3 separate regions of the Homo sapiens genome follow, and all the other regions are linked to region 1. Evidence: fine-mapped expression QTL. A gene starts in region 1. Each other region holds a variant in brackets. All regions are shown on one strand. Distances are from middle to middle. Region 1 holds the start of EXOSC10 (exosome component 10). Region 2 overlaps MTOR (mechanistic target of rapamycin kinase). Region 3 has its middle 3.1 kb from the start of MTOR.

What was found. PIP is the estimated chance that this variant, and not a neighbour inherited with it, causes the effect.
Region 2: its variant is fine-mapped to the expression of EXOSC10 in whole blood (TOPMed, PIP above 0.99).
Region 3: its variant is fine-mapped to the expression of EXOSC10 in whole blood (TOPMed, PIP above 0.99).

The regions. Positions count from the first base shown.
Region 1 is chr1:11,098,728-11,101,488 of GRCh38, reverse strand. It overlaps EXOSC10 (exosome component 10), which reads left to right and starts at 1,620. Exons shown (of 25, transcript NM_001001998.3): 1 at 1,620-1,768. The coding sequence starts at 1,658. EXOSC10-AS1 (EXOSC10 antisense RNA 1) reads right to left here and starts at 1,814. Exons shown (of 2, transcript NR_135062.1): 1 at 1,675-1,814. RefSeq lists enhancers at 1,331-1,891, 2,181-2,240, 1,892-2,454 and a silencer at 2,078-2,279.
Region 2 is chr1:11,173,267-11,176,027 of GRCh38, reverse strand. All of the region lies in intron 28 of MTOR (mechanistic target of rapamycin kinase), which reads left to right. Among named protein-coding and RNA genes, the nearest start is that of ANGPTL7, 15 kb to the left of the region's middle. The variant C/T (reference allele first, on the strand shown) is at 1,275.
Region 3 is chr1:11,264,232-11,266,992 of GRCh38, reverse strand. No RefSeq gene overlaps it. Among named protein-coding and RNA genes, the nearest start is that of MTOR, 3.1 kb to the right of the region's middle. The variant G/A (reference allele first, on the strand shown) is at 1,599.

The DNA of each region.
Region 1 (2,761 bases):
AGTTCGAGACCAGGTTGGTAAGATGCAGTCTAAAAAAAATAAGCCAGGCGCTGGTGGCGCACACCTGTAATCCCAGCACTTCGGGAGGCCAAAGCAGGTGGATCACTTGAGGTCAGGAGTTCAAGACCAGCCTGGCCAACATGGTGAAACCCCATCTCTACTAAAAATACAAAAAAAAAAAAAAAATTAGCCGGGCATTGTGGCACACGCCTGTAATCCCAGCTACTTGAACCTAGGAAGCGGAGGTTGCAGTGAGCTGAGATTGCACCACTGCACTCCAGCCTGGGCAGCAGAGTGAGACTCTGTCTCAAAAAAAAAAAATAAACAGGGCAGGCACGGTGGCTCCGCCTGTAATCCCAGCACTCTGGGAGGTCGAGGCGGGAGGATCACAAGGTGAGGAGTTCGAGACCAGCCTGGCCAATATGGTGAAACCCCGTTTCTACTAAAAATACGAAAAAAATTAGCCGAGCGTGGTGGTGCACGCCTGTAATCCCAGCTACTCGGGAGGCTGAGGCAAGAGAATTCGTTGAACCCGGGAGGCGGGAGGTTGCAGTGAGCCAAGATTGCGTCACTGCACTCCAGCCTGGGCAACAGAGTGAGACTCCATCTCAAAAAAAATAAAAATAAAAATAGGCTGCACGCTGATGACTCGTATCTGTAATCCCAGCACTTTGGGAGAGCAAGAGTGAAACTTTGTCCCAAAAACATGGTTTTTTTTGTTTGTTTGTGACAAGGTCTCACTCTGTTGCCCAGGCTGGAATGCAGTGGTTCGATCTCGGCTCACTGTAACCTCCACCTCCCGGGCTCAAGCCTCAGCCTCCCGAGTAGCTGGGATTACAGGCATGTGCCACCACGCCCGACTAATTTTTGTGTTTTTAGTATAGACAGAGTTTCACCATGTTGGCCAGGCTGGTCTCCAACTCCCGACCTCAGGTGATCCACCCGCCTCGGCCTCCTAAAGTGCTGGGATTACAGGTGTGAGTCACGGCGCCCAGCCTCAAAAACATAACCTTAAAAAGAAATTTTTGAGACAGGGTTTCATCCTGTCACCCCGGCTGGAGTGCAGTGGAGCCTCCACCTCCTCGGCTCAAGCAACCATCCCACCTCAGCCTCCCGAGCAGCTGGGACTACAGATGCGCACCACCACTCCCGGTAATCCCGGTTTGTTTGTTTTTTAAATTTTTAAATAAACACGAGGATAAGCGGGGATCGTGGCCCTCGCCTGGGGTCCCTGCTACTTCGCAGGCTAAGGTGGGAGGATCTCTTGAGCCCAAGAGTTCGAAACCAGATTGGGCAAACCTCGTGTCAAAAATATATGTGATAGTCAGGTCCTCCAGGCCGCACCCTAGATCACAGGGTTGTTGGGATGATACAATATGAGGTAAAAGAACGTGAAATTCACACCAGAGCGCTCGAAAGTGCCACCCTAATCGCAGGCTTCCCAACCTAATCGCAGGCTTCCCAACCTAATCGCAGGTGCCCCACCCTAAACGCAGGCTTCCCAACCTAATCGCAGGCGCCCCACCCCAATCGCAGGCTCCCCACACTATAATCAGACGCCCCGCCCGCCGCTTCGACCTGGCGCATGCGTGGTGCGCACGCGTCCCGTCTCCTCGGCCGACAAGCTCTCGCGAGACGAGCCGTGCAGGCTGAAAAAATGGCGCCACCCAGTACCCGGGAGCCCAGGGTCCTGTCGGCGACCAGCGCAACCAAATCCGACGGAGAGATGGTGCTGCCAGGCTTCCCGGACGCCGACAGCTTTGTGAAGGTGAGTTCGCGGGGCCTCGGGGGTACCAGGAGTCGCCCGCGGCCGCCGGAAGCCGACTGGGCCCTCTGGGCAGCCAATGCCCGCCCGCCGTAGTGGAGCCCGAGCGAGGGTCGCGGGGCCCCTGTCCGCGCTGGGCGCAGACTCTCCTGCACCCTCCGGGGATGGGGCCTCGGAAACGGACACTGAGGGGCGTCCCGCTTGCGAGCCTAAGTCCATGGAGGCCCAAATGTGGAAAGCCGTCTCGCATCCTGGGAAAGGCTTCCTTGCCACCCAGACGTCCCTAGCCCTTGCGACGTCGCGCTCGCCACGCCCTAGCCACCCGACCAGCTCTCCGCAGGGGCTCGGCTTCTTCGCGCTCCCCACACTTGCCTGGAGTTGTCTCCTCCCGCGGCCAGTATGGCCCTTCTCTTCCTCTGTTTCTGAAGTCCAGTCCTACATAATTTTTAACCCTGAGTTAAATGTCACCTGTTAAAGCCCCATTGCACGTTTATTAGTAACTCCTGGAAGGTATACAGGGCGTTCACTTAAGATCTTTGTATAACTTAGCTTAAATATGAGCAAACGTACAACTAGGCTTAAGGTGTGCATAGCTCTTACAAAGCAATGAAACTAAAATAATTTGTAAATTAACCCTATAAATTTACAGAAATTCCACTAACGTTGTATCTTATCTAATTTGCTGTTAGCTAATGCTATTGATTCATTAACATGGCTCTCAATAGTTCCTGGACCACTAACTGTGGTCCTGGTTGTGTGGCGGTCATGCTCATAAGCTACCATGTTCCCCTCCGTGACTTAATTTCCCACCTCCTTTCTCTGCTTTTTTCTTGGGAAATGTTTATTCACAAAACTCACAATGACGTTTTAGGCCTTCACATGATCAGCCATCATTTATGTCACTTCACGGCTTTTTTTCGTTACCTCACAACAGTTAAAATAGAGAACCACTTGACACTAACTGAACAATAAACACAAATCCAGTTTTAGATAGTA
Region 2 (2,761 bases), 75 kb before region 1:
GCCTGTAATCCCAGCACTTTGGGAGGCTGAGGCGGTTAGATCATTTGAGGTCAGGAGTTCAAGACCAGCCTGGCCAACATGGTGAAAACACATCTCTACTACTAAAAATAGAAAAATTAGCTGGGCAGTAGTGGCGCGCACCTGTAATCCCAGCTACTGGAGAGACTGAGGCATGAGAATCCTTGAGCCTGGGAGGCAGAGGTTGCGGTGAGCCGAGATTGCGCCACTGCACTCCAGTCTGGGTGACAGAGTGAGACCCTGTCTCAAAAAAAAAAAAAAAACCTGCTAGGGAGAGCCTGAGAGGAAAGGGCTATGGGGAGGCAGCAGGCGCCACTGCCCACGTGAGCTGCTCTACCGTCACTCCTGACAGGGCCTTTGCCGGGGGAAGTGTCTGCACAGCTGAACCACCCGCTGCTCAGCTCGCATGCTTGCCCTGCCTTGGGAACAAGGTTTCTGGATAGTGGGGATAAGATGTTCAGCGTAATGGTGTGATGTTTGCTATAGGAAGGCAGCAAGGCAATTTCTTAGTATTAGTTCTGCTCAGCTCTAGAAAATGTTTTCCTTGATTGCCAAGAACTTTCCCAGCTCAATTCAAAACTCGAATTTGATGAAAGGAGGCTCTGCAATTCAGCCTCCTTTAATCAGAATTCAATCTTGGGCTGGGGTGGGGAGAGTGGAGAATGAATGAGAATGAATATGTCTGTACAGCGGCCTCCTTCTGCCCCTGATACCCAGATTCACCATGTTCTCCTTTCCGCCTGTCTTCGTTGTCTTCCTAACGCCAGGTTCAGTTTGTGGGCTCTGGATTCTATTATGCGGATAGGCAGTTTCTGTTTGTTCTACAGATTCACAACTGTATGATAGCAACTGGATGTTATAACTGGAAACTGGAGTAGAATACCAACATACCCCACACCCATGTTAGGGAGGCAGTGGGAATCACTAGTTTAGAAAATTCTTGGGACTCAGTTCTCTTTTCCTTTTGGCCTCAGTAGGCGTCAAGAGGAGATGGGAAATCTGATTGACCTGTCATTTCTGCACACTGTTATAGGCACGTTGCTGACAAGCCTCAGTTTCTTTAAACTTGTTTGTGTTCAGATCTTTTCCACCAGACCAGCATCAGCAGGGTCTGGTTTGTGGTGTTACGTACTCCTCTTCTGTTGGGCTGGAGCTTTGAACAGTTTGCCCTTTATAAGCCTGCAGCATTAATAGGGAAAGACTGAGGGGCACCCAAGGGGGTGTTTATAGAATGGGCTTTATAAAACTCCCAGCTG[C/T]CCCGTAAAACAAGAGTTCCTCGCTAAGGGGGCTTTTGAGCAAAGGTGATTTCTTCACAGGAGCCGAACATACAGTCTCTGCCTTCAGTCTCATAAAAACCACATCTCATTAGAAAAGGGACATAATTCAAAGGACGGCTTTGTATCACCCAGGTAGGCAGGAGATCTGGGACTTAGTGGCTGTGAACTCCTGCATTTTCACAGAGACTTGCTTGTCCTGCACTTTGCAGCCTGAACTATAAGCCTGGCTGTCTTTGAAAAGCCTGCTGTGATGGCATGCTGACTTGTCACGTGGAAGGCTGGAGGCATATTAGTAGCTTCTGGAAGGAAATAAAAAATGTGAGATGGGAGCTTGGGAGTAAGAGAGGAATGTTAGTGAGGAAGTTAAAATGAAGGCACAGGAGGGCTCCCTTCTCCTGCACAATGAGTTCTAGAGAGAGAGTTAATGGAAACATCCCACCCATTGCTCACACTCGTTCATTTTACAGCTAATTCCTGGGTGCCTACTGATGCCAAGAGGAGAAAGCTAAGACACCGCCTGTCCCTCCCATTGCAGAGCTTGCAGTATACCCTTCATTATTACTTAAGATACTTTTTTCTCTTTACCTCAACATGGCACTAAAGATACTTTTCCGTGGTAACATTTTTAAGAGAAAGTCACCTTTTAAGGGAAGGCAATAGCCTGTGACCTACTGGGCTGTGTTTTCTTCATATATAAAATGAGAATATTAATAATAGTTTCACAGGGTCGAAATAATACATAGAAACAATAAGCGCAGTGCCTGGCACATATGGTGAGCTCTCTTCTTATTTTGGTATCTTCTTCTTGTATCTTCTTCTTGTTGCCTCCCGTGATGGAGTGCCAGAAGGCATGGAGGAAGAAGAAAAAATTAAGATCCCAAACAAGATAACAGACTCTCTTGATCACCAGGATTAATAAGCCTGCTGACTTCACTGTCCAGAGCATCCACATCCATAATTAGTATTCTCCAGCAGCTTTAGAGGCGTGCATGGGAACTCCTCAGAAGGAAATAAGAGAAATGTAGCTTAGGGAGAAAGTCCTGTAGGAAATTAAAGTGAAAAAGGGGGAAGAGGAAATAAATACACAGGCTGATAGCAGCTGGTTCACTAAAAATCTCTTTATTCTTTGAACAATCAAGAGAGTAGGTGTGGCTGGGCGTGGTGGCTCATGCCTGTAATCCTAACAATTTGGGAGGCTGAGACAGGCAGATCACTTGAGCTCAGGAGTTCGAGACCAGCCTGGGCAACACGGCAAAACTTCATTTCTACTAAAAATACAAAAAAAAAATAATAATGTGTGTGGTGGTGTAGGCCTTTGAGAGGCTGAGGTGGGAGGATTGCGTGAGTCCAGGGGGTGGAGGTTGCAGTGGCCTGAGATCGCACCATTGCACCCCACCTTGGATAACAGAACCAGACCTTGTTGTGAAAAAAAGAGAGTGGGCTAGGCGAGGTGGCTCACATCTGTA
Region 3 (2,761 bases), 170 kb before region 1:
ATGGGCACTAAGAGGCAAAATCGCAGATGATCACTAACAGGCAAAATCGCCGATGATCTTCCTCTAGGAACACTGGACTGGTAAGGGAAACACATCTTGAGTGAGCATGCCCACAACTCCAGTAAACACACTGCACATGCGCCCCTACCCAAGTGCTGACAGGCCACCATGCATGTGGACAGCCCACCCCAAGGGAAGAATCAGGGGAGAAGGGATGCAAGACCCTGGAAGTATGCCAACCCCGAGTCAAGGTCAAACAGCGCACTTGATCTCTCAGGTCAACTGCTTGGTTCTCTTCCAAGTGTCCTTTACTTCCTTTCATTCCTGCTCTAAAGCTCTTTAATAAACTTCGCTCCTGTTCTAAAACTTGCCTCAGTCTCTCACTCTGCCTTATGCCCCTCAGTTGAATTCTTTCTTCTGAGGAGGCAAGAACTGAGCTTGCTGCAGACCATGTAAATTCAGCGCTGGTAACACTCCCATCTCCTCAGTTGGCTGCCCTGCGATCACTAAACTCTTTCTCTGCTGCAGACTCTGCTGTCTCATTGCATTGGTCAACTGTTGCTGTGCAGCAGGCATAGAATCCTGTTGGAACTACAAGAGAAAGATCTACAAGATGCAGTAAAATTTTAAAAATGCAAAATAGTGCGTATAGTATAACAAAAGGGGAAAATAAAAATATATGTATGGGCTGGGCATGGTGGCTCGTGCCTGTAATCCTAGCATTTTGGGAGGCTGAGGCAAGCGGATCAACTGAGGTCAGGAGTTTGAGACCAGCTTGGCCAATGTGGTGAAACCTTGTCTCTACTAAAAATAAAAAAATTAGCCACGCATGATGGCACAGACATGTAATCCCAGCTATTGGGGAAGCTGAGGCAGGAGAATCACTTTAACCTGGGAGGCAGAGGTTGCAGTGAGCCAAGATCATGCCACTGCACTCCAGCCTGGGCGACAGAGTGAGACTCTGTCTCAAAAAAAAAAAAAAAAAAAAAAAGGAATATACATACGTATATATTTGCTTGTTTTTGCAGACAGAAAATCTAGGGATGCATAAGAAACTGAGAAAATACATAGTCAAGGGGCAAGGGTGGAGCAAGACTTTTCATGATAAATGTAACTTGTTTATTTTGAGATTTGAATAGCGACTATATTGCATATTAGAAGCTTTTAATGATAAAAATATAGATGTTGGGCCAGGCACAATGGCTCACGCCTGTAATCCCAGCACTTTGGGAGGCTGAAGCAGGCGGATCACCTGAGGTCAGGAGTTCAAGACCAGCCTGGCCAACATGGCGAAACCCTGTCTCTACTAAAAATACAAAAATTAGCTGGGTGTGGTGGCAGGTGCCTGTAATCCCAGCTACTCAGGAGGCTGAGGCACGAGAATCACTTGAACCCAGGAGGCGGTGGTTGTAGTGAGCCGAGATTGCGCCACTGCACTCCTGCCTGGGTACCAGAACGAGACTCCATCTAAAAAAAAAAAAAAAAAAAAAAATTGAACATCAGTGAAAATGTAAAATTTAGAGGAATACTTATCTCACAGGAGCAATGAAAAGAGGCTAAATCTAAAGTAGCCATTATTACTCGAGAGGCTGAGGCAA[G/A]AGAATCGCTTAAACCTGGGAGGCAGAGGTTGCAGTGAGGTGAGATGGCTCCCCTGCACTCCAGCCTGGGTGACAGAGTAAGATTCTGTCTCAAAAAAAAGGAGCAATTATATATATATATATATTTATATATATATATATATAATTTTTTTTTTTTGAGACAGTGTCTCACTCTGTCAACTCAGGATGGAATGCAGTGGTGCAGTGGTGAGATCACAGCTCACTGCAGCCTTGACCTCCTGGGCTCAAGTGATCCTCCCACCTCAACCTCTTAAGTAGCTGGGACCACAGGTGCATGCCACCACACCAACTAATTTTTTGCATTTTTTGTAGAGATGAGGTTTCACCATGTTGCCCAGGTGGGCTCAAACAATCCACCTGCCTCAGCCTCCCAAAGTGTTGGGTCACTGTGCCTGGCCAATATCATAGATATTAACAATAACAACAACAACAACAAAAACCCTGCCAAACAAAGCATTTTGTTAGCCACGGAATATTGACATCTTTATTTGTTTATTTATTTATTTATTTGAGATGGAGTCTCACTATGTTGCCCAGGCTGGTCTCAAATGCCTGGGCTCATGCAATCTTCCTGCTTTGGCCTCCCAAAGTGCTGGGATTACAGGTGTGAGCCACCGCACCCAGCCCAACTATCTTTAATTTGGCAGTTTAGACCTTCTGAAAACTCATTTCTTCTACCTTCACTTGTTTTTATTACATAAGTAATTGATAATGTATAAAGAAAAAAAGTGTGTCTTTCCCAAATTACATCTTAGTTGTGCACATTTCCCCCATGTAAACAGAGACATATAAGAAATGCATAAATATTTTTGTAAATGGTTGTATTATACTTACATTGTTGCACAACTTGTAATTTTTAAACTAGTTGTGAACCTTTTCCTTCTTAGCAAATATTCATCTAATTACCACTATTTATTGTTATTATTATTATTTGAGACAGGATCTTTCTCTGCTGCCCAGGCTGCAGTGCAGTGGAGATCACAGATGACTGCAACCTTGAAGTCATAGACTCAAGTGATTCTCGTGCCTCAGCCTTCCAAGTAGCTGGGACTACAGGCATGTGCTACCACACACAGCTAATTTTTAAATTTCTTTTGTAGAGACAAGGGTCTCACTATGTTGCTCAGGCTGGTCTGGAACTC